Homo sapiens: one gene and its partner. The protein of the gene in region 2 purifies or fractionates together with the protein of the main gene of each other region. This does not show direct contact. Each region holds a gene or a part of one and is shown on either strand. Other genes may lie near its edges.

What was found. The genes of interacting proteins can lie anywhere in the genome.
Region 1: the proteins of MYH4 (region 2) and SORCS2 purify together in Homo sapiens (affinity purification with mass spectrometry; one large-scale study listed by BioGRID and IntAct). This does not show direct contact.

Annotation. Positions count from the first base shown.
Region 1 is NC_000004.12:7,720,538-7,724,037, forward strand, and holds part of SORCS2 (VPS10 domain-containing receptor SorCS2), read left to right. Parts: intron 1-3,159; coding exon 3,160-3,346; intron 3,347-3,500. UniProt on the Homo sapiens protein: The heterodimer formed by NGFR and SORCS2 functions as receptor for the precursor forms of NGF (proNGF) and BDNF (proBDNF). ProNGF and proBDNF binding both promote axon growth cone collapse (in vitro).
Region 2 is NC_000017.11:10,459,425-10,463,279, forward strand, and holds part of MYH4 (myosin-4), read right to left. Parts: intron 3,765-3,855; coding exon 3,666-3,764; intron 3,545-3,665; coding exon 3,441-3,544; intron 1,631-3,440; coding exon 1,492-1,630; intron 898-1,491; coding exon 779-897; intron 678-778; coding exon 528-677; intron 1-527. UniProt on the Homo sapiens protein: Muscle contraction.

The sequences.
Region 1 (3,500 bases), on a different chromosome or scaffold from region 2:
TGAAACACCCATGTTAAGAAGATGAAAGGCAAGCTACAGAGTGAGAGAAAGTATTTGCAAACCACATATCCAACAAGGACCAGTACCTAGACTAGAGGAAGAACACTCAACAGCAAGGAAACAAACCGTCCAGTTAGGAAATGAGCAGAACTGAAAAGACGTTTCACCAGGAGAATGGACAAATGACAGGTAAGCACACGAAAAGATGACAAACGCCATCAGCCGCCAGGGAAGCCCACAGCCAGACATCACTGCGCACCTATCAGAATGGCTGACATTAAAAATAGCGCCAGCATGAAGTACCGGTGAGGATGCAGGGAAGGACACTGGATCACTTACGCATGGCTGGGGAGACTGGAGAATGCCACAGGTGTTCTGGAAAACACTTCAGCAGTTTCTTAACGAACTCAACATGCAACGACCAGAGGACTGAGCACTTGCACTCATGGCGGTCATATCAGAGTAATGAAGACTTCTGTTCACACAAAAACCTGTATGTGTCTGTTCATAGCAGTGTTATTCACAAAGGCCAGAAACTCAAACCGCCCAGGTGCCCTGCAGTGGGTGAATGCACAGGCTGGGGTGCCCCCATGCTGAGATACCATGCTGCAGTGAGAAGGAATCCATTATTAATACCTGCAGCAGGGCCCAGCACGGTGTCTCACGCCTGTGATCCCAGCAGTTTGGGAGGCCGAGGTGGGTGGATCAGCTGAGGTCGGGAGTTCGAGACCAGCCTGGCCAACATGACGAAACCCTGTCTCTGCTAAAAAAAACAAAACTTAGCCAGGTGTGGTGATGCATGCCTGTAATCCCAGCTACTTGGGAGGCTGAGGCTCAAGAATCACTTGAACCTGGGAGTCGGAGGTTGCAGTGAGCCAAGATCCCACCACTGTACTCCAGCCTGGGCAACAGAGTGAGATCCCGTCTTAAAAAAAAAATAATAGTAATACCTGCTTCAACCTGGATGAGCCTCAAGTGGATTATGCCGAGTGAAAAAAGCCACTCCCACATGATCCCCTGCTGTGCCACTCATTCATATAACACTCCTGAAATACAGAAATGGAGAAAGAGAATAGAAATTATCAAAGTTATAGAAATGGAGAAAGACTAATGGTTACCATGGAGTTGGGCTAATGTGCGGAAGTGGGTGTGTCTGCAAAGGGCACCCGGTGGGGTCCTAGTGCTGGCTGAATTGTCCTGTCTCTTTCCTGTATCAGTGTTAACCTCCTAGTCGTGATACTATCATTTGGCAAGATGTTAGCCTTGGGGAGAGCCGGGTACGGGGCACACAGGGTGGATCTGTATCATTCCGTACAACTACATAGGAGCCTACCATTATCTCAGAAGACAATGTTTAATTTTTCTTTAAGCACCAGTAATAATAATGGATATAAATGAAATATACCAGGATGTGAATGGAGGGTATTATGGTGAGATTTAGTTTTGTTCTTTTTCTTTGCTTTACTATTTGTATTTTATATTATTTTCTACCTTGAGAATATACTACTTTTGTGGTCAGGAGAAAAAGACAAGTTATTTTAACCAACTGAAATGTTTAAGAAGTTAAATGTGCATCAGCGCAGCCCTTGAAGGCAGGAACACAAGGCCCCGAGAGGTGGCGCCTCACCCAGGTTGAGCGGATCACGAGTCCTGACTCTGGGTCACACATGCCTTCTCCTTCCCAGGATTAGCACAGGAAACACTTCCCTCCGTGGAAGCAGCTCAGACTTGAGCGCTTCCCCTCATTCCCCGCCCCTCCCTGAGAGGCTGCCTTTAAACAGAAAGAACCACAACCAGCGAGCAGCCTCCTGGGTCCTGGGCTTTGGAGAGCCTCAGTCTTCTAACCTGTCAAATGGGGAGAACGGAGCACCCTGCAGCCTCCTTCCTAGGGACCCCATAACAAATTATCTCATGCCGGGTGGCCTGAACCCACACAAGTCTCCGAAGGAGAATCCATTTGCACCTCCTCCAGCTTCCAGGGCTCCCGGCACTCCTTGGCCCCTGACAGAGTCACTCCTGCCTTTGCCTTCACCTCCACGCAGCCTCTGTCCGTGCCCAAATCTCCCTCTCCTTTCTCTTACACAGATGCCTGTCACTGGATTTAGGGCCCACCCTAATCCAGTATGACCTCATCTTAGCTAATGACACCTGTAAAGACCCTATTTCCAAATGAGGTCACATTCTGAGGTTCCCGGTAGACGTGAATTTTGGGGAGACACTGACCAGCTCAATTTACCACATCTGTGGAGAAAGTTAAGTGAACAGAATTTACGTAAAAGTTTTCTATCAACTTACAACGTTTGGCTGGTATAAACTGAGAAGATGGCTAAGTGGTTAGTAATCACGCTGTTTCCTCCATCATCACTAGGAAACGGTTTCCTCGTGCCCCTGGTGCCGGCGAGGGAGGAAGAGGGAAGGGGAGGAGAGGAGGAAGGGAGGGAGGGAGAATGTGATCATGAGCCATAAATCGAAGAAGTTCCTGTTTCCTTCACTCAATCCCCCACCTCTGCGAGGGAAATGCGGTTATTGGAAGGTGGAAGGAGATGGTGGAGCGGCCTCTCTGGGTGACTCGGTGCCACGCGGGGATGGCAGTTGGTGGGAGCTCCTCTCTGCACTCACCCTGCCCCATCTCAGCGTCACTCCTGGTACCGCATGGTCTGAGAAAGAGAAAATTAAGAACCGCAGCTTCCCAGAAAGGAAAATCCTGCTTGGTTTCCAGGCAGGCGGCTTAGGCACTTCCAGATGTGTTCCTCTCCCCTGCCGAAACCCTCCTCGCAGTGGGAGGCCCCTCACCTTCCTGGCTCCATCCCTAGCACGGGCCTCTGTGGGTCTCCCCCGGGCCCTGACTGCCCCCCAGCTGCTCTCTGATGACACCCTTGGGCCTCTCCCTCTCCCTCTCTGCCGCTGGGTGATTGTTCTGAAATATCCCTTGGCCACAGCCCCTAGTTAAACCAGCTGCCTTGGTCAGCCCCATACTCCAGGAAGAATCTCCAGGGCAGAACCAGGCCCGGTCTCCTGTGGGTCCCCAGAGCCCACTCATGTCAAGGAAGGGAGGGCGGCAATGAATGAATGAGTGAGTGAGTGAGTGAGTGAATGAACCACTCTGGCCCCTCAGCTTCAAGGCCCACTCCTGAGTGGCCACATGGTGTTTCTCTGCAGGGTGATGTCCTGACTACCAAGTACCAGGTAGACCTTGGGGACGGCTTCAAGGCCATGTACGTGAACCTTACACTGACCGGGGAGCCCATCCGGCACCGCTACGAGAGCCCCGGCATCTACCGCGTGTCCGTCAGGGCAGAGAACACGGCAGGCCACGATGAGGCGGTGCTCTTTGTCCAGGTCAACTGTAAGTTTATTGCCCCTTTGAGGCCAAAGGTCACTCCCTTTGAGAGAGAGAACCTGGCTTTGGGGGAAACACAGGGAAGCCCCCGGGATTGCTCTAGGCCCCTGGTACTCAGGACGGTGAACCCGAGGGCAGGGAGGCAGGGAGGCTGGGCTCA
Region 2 (3,855 bases):
CAGAACAAGATAAATATAGGAAATTACGCATAACAAGTATTCTATCTACAGAGTATCTATTAGTATTTTCTTCTGAATTTAAGGCATTTTGGTTTATTAAATTATAAACCTTCAGATTGTTTTCCTATTATATAGTTCTAAACAAAGTAGAATTGATTCTTTGAATACTTATTTTCCAAGTAACTGCATGAGATCATGCATACTAGGCAAAATACTGTTAAATGAGGACTCTGAAATATTTCCTTAGAGTAATTTTAAAAAGGTGTTCTCATGCTCATCTGCTTGGATCCAGGATAGATTTTGACTATTTTAACCTCTCAGGGATCAACTTTTGAGACTTCTAGACTCAAAAGAATAGAATTTTCTCTTTTCCTATTTATACCTATTTACTTTTCATATCTTTTCAAAGACTCCTTTCAGTAGGAATTACATTTGTATATTTTGTAAGGTACATTTTGTAAATGTGATTTTGTATGCTCTAACAAGAGGATTTGCACTGGCTAATTTTCTGTCAGTTCACTACTCACATCAAAGATCTCAAAGCCAGCAATGTCCAAGACCCCGATGAAGTACTGCCTGGGCTGCTTGGTGTCCAGCTGCTGGTTGATGCGGGTGACCATCCACAGGAACATCTTCTCGTAGATGGCTTTGGCCAGAGCACCCACTGCATTGTACACCTTCAACAGAAGTGATAGTTTAGTTTTTTAAATTGAAAACAGTGATGAACTCCTGAGTCACTTGCGGTTCAAATAAATCAGACAATTTAAGTCATGTTTACCTGCTGCACAGTCTGGCCTTTGGTTACGAACTCATTGCCGACCTTGACTCTGGGATAGCAGAGAGATTTGAGCAGGTCAGCAGAGTTCAGACTTGTCAGATAAGCAGCTTTGTCAGCAACTGTGTGAACAAGGTGAGAATGGTGAAACTGACCATGGCTTACACAATTTAAAATGTAAATGATGATGACAAAGAAAAAAGGTTTCACTCAAAAAGTAAGATGTGCAAATGTCATTGAAACCTTTTCATTTGTTCATATTGCCTCAAAAGCATTGCCACCACTTGCACTAATTTTAGTCATTTCTTGTGATGATAAATTGGAGGTTGGGGAATCGATGCTGTCTGTGATATTTAACCTGGCAAAAGTAGACCACAGATAAAAATAATTTGAGAAACCCTAACCTAGAGGAGTAGTGACAGAAATATTCAGATCTCTGTTTCTTTCAGTGCCTGTGGGCACACAGATTATCCTGAAATAAAATATGTTTTAGTCAAATAGCAAATATGAGCTTATGAAAAGCCAATGAATAATGGAATGAGCAGAAATCACAAATCTGCTAAATAATGTAAAACGTCAGGCAGTGTGTAATTTCCTTCTCGTAATACTTTTGCCCTTCACGAGCTAGGTCAGAGAAAGTAAAAACACGGTCCCTGCCTCTGAAAAGTTCACTATGTCAGCTTTGTCAAGTGGAAGATACCAACAGGGGGTGGTACCTTCCGTGCCATCTGGCTCTGCCTGCTCTTCCCTTTGCTTTTGCTTGAATTTCATGTTCCCATAATGCATCACGGCTCCAGTGAGCTTGTAAATGGCCACCTTTTCATCAGCAGTGAAACCCAGGATGTCCACAGCACTCTGTCAAAAGAGTTGAATTTGCTCATCCCCAATTAGCACCATGGAAGAATCCCTCAGAACACCGGGGCTGTCTCCCACTTTTTTCTCATCACGCCTTGCCTTATATTTGACTAGCACTTTGCCATCTTCAAAAGGTACTCATATGCTTTACCTTTTGATCCACATGGCAACACGAAGAGGTATGCATCAGTCTTTCCATTTGAGTCATGAGTCCATTTGGTCACAGCATATGATGTGACTTGTCCACACTCACTGAACCAGGACTAAGAGCCATGACTTTTGATGCCAAGGCCAGTGCTTTGCCCCTTTTCTCCACCCCAGCCCCCCTTTGCTTCTCAGGCACATGCTCCTCTTGGTCTTTTGGCTATTTTTGTTTCTTTTCTCCAGTCTCACGAGTCTCTCTGTTGCTCCTTCTTCTCCTATTTGTCCTATCCTAATGCATAATCCCAGTCTACCTTCCCCTGCTAATGGGCATGAGTGATAAAGTTGGAAAGAGGGTATGAGGAGAACAGCAATGGTTGTGAGTCTTTCTCCACATGCCTCTCTGATAGCAAGCCACAGCTCAGCGACCACGAGATGCCTGGGGTAGCAAACTTTACCTAGTTATTTATTTCTCATGCAGAGAAGAGACATTTATGAAAAGAAGGAATTTTGCCATTTAGTATAATATTTCTGTGTCTTTTTTCTCTATCGAATTTTGATTACCTTTTTAGTTGCCCACATAGGCTTTGAAAAGGCTTATAAATGGGGGCAGGATTCAGAGCAGGCAGAGGAAAATATGTTTATTTACCATTCTTACCTAAGACTCTTTCCCCAGATTATTGACTTCCACTTCCAGCTCACTAACTCTACCTATTTACAGAAACTAGACATTATTACGGAAGTCTTAGAGCAAGACTGCTACATTTTTTTAACCTCGCAGACCAGGGTGTGTTTCTTAACTCCCTATCACTTTTGGACATACAAAGATAATAATAAGTTATAGAGAGTTAAAGCTGATATTTATAATATAAAGCCACACAAATGAATTATTGACTTCTTGAAAATAATATTTTAATAGAAAAAGCAGTTTTGCAAGCACTGTCAACTCTAACTTGGGGGTATTGGGATAGTCCCACTGATATTAAAGTTAAAAATAAGGAAGATTATTCAGAAATCAAAAGAAAGCATGAAATATACATAAAGTTTACATATAAAGAAAGTAAGCCAAAAAGCAATAATCCTTAAAAAAGAGGTGATGGTGGGGAGAGAGTGCGTTGTTTCAAAAATAAATATAAAGGCTTATGGAGTCCCCAAAATGAGTGTTTTTGAAGTAGACAACCCACTTCTTCTAATGCTGCTTAGGGAGTAGAGAGGGATATATCATTGGCCCACAGAGGTTTATTCAAAATAAGGCTTATGTTTACATGTGACTGTAGAAGAACAGTGGGAGTTCCATGTTTAGTTGTAATAATATTGCAGCTCCTTCCCAGAATCTTGGGTGTGAGGTGTGGCATAAAATAGCAGAGAAACATTAATATTGGAGCATAAATATCAACCAAAAATGACTAATAAGAAAGATAGAATGAAAGGAGCCTACTAGCTAAGGAATACTAAAGACCCAACATTTATTACAGGCAGTGAAAGCTTTTTAACACATGTAGGGGGAGGGTATTGAAATATCCTACAATTTTTTTCCAAAAGTAAGAAAGCCCAAAGGGTTGTATTACCTATTTATAGTCTTTCTGCCACTGCTTTCCACCCTAATAGAGGAGAGTGTTGTACACTGGAAAATGAATTTACTTTTTACTACTTTGTACCTATTACTTACATCTGTGGCCATCAGCTCTTCCTGGTCATCAATGCTGGGCACAGTAATTTCCCCTTGGCTGACAAATGCGAAGTCATATGGGTTGGTGGTGATCAGAAGCATTTCTGAACACATGGAAAAGAACAGTATATAGACAGCATTGCTTTGGTCATCAAAAACATTTCAGAGAGGCTTCTTAGAAGGGCTGTTATTCTTTGGTAGAAATAAATCAAAGATGTGTCTTACCAATGAGCTCTGGTTTCTTATTGGACAGGATTTGATAAAATATGTGGTAGCTTCTTTCAGCCTTTAGCTGAAAAGTAACTCGGGACTTCTCTAGCAGATCTGGAAGTCAGATTAAGCTCATTTAAAAGAAGATGCCACAGTGAAAAATTAAGTGTTTGAAAATTTCACACAACAGAAATAAGTACAAGAT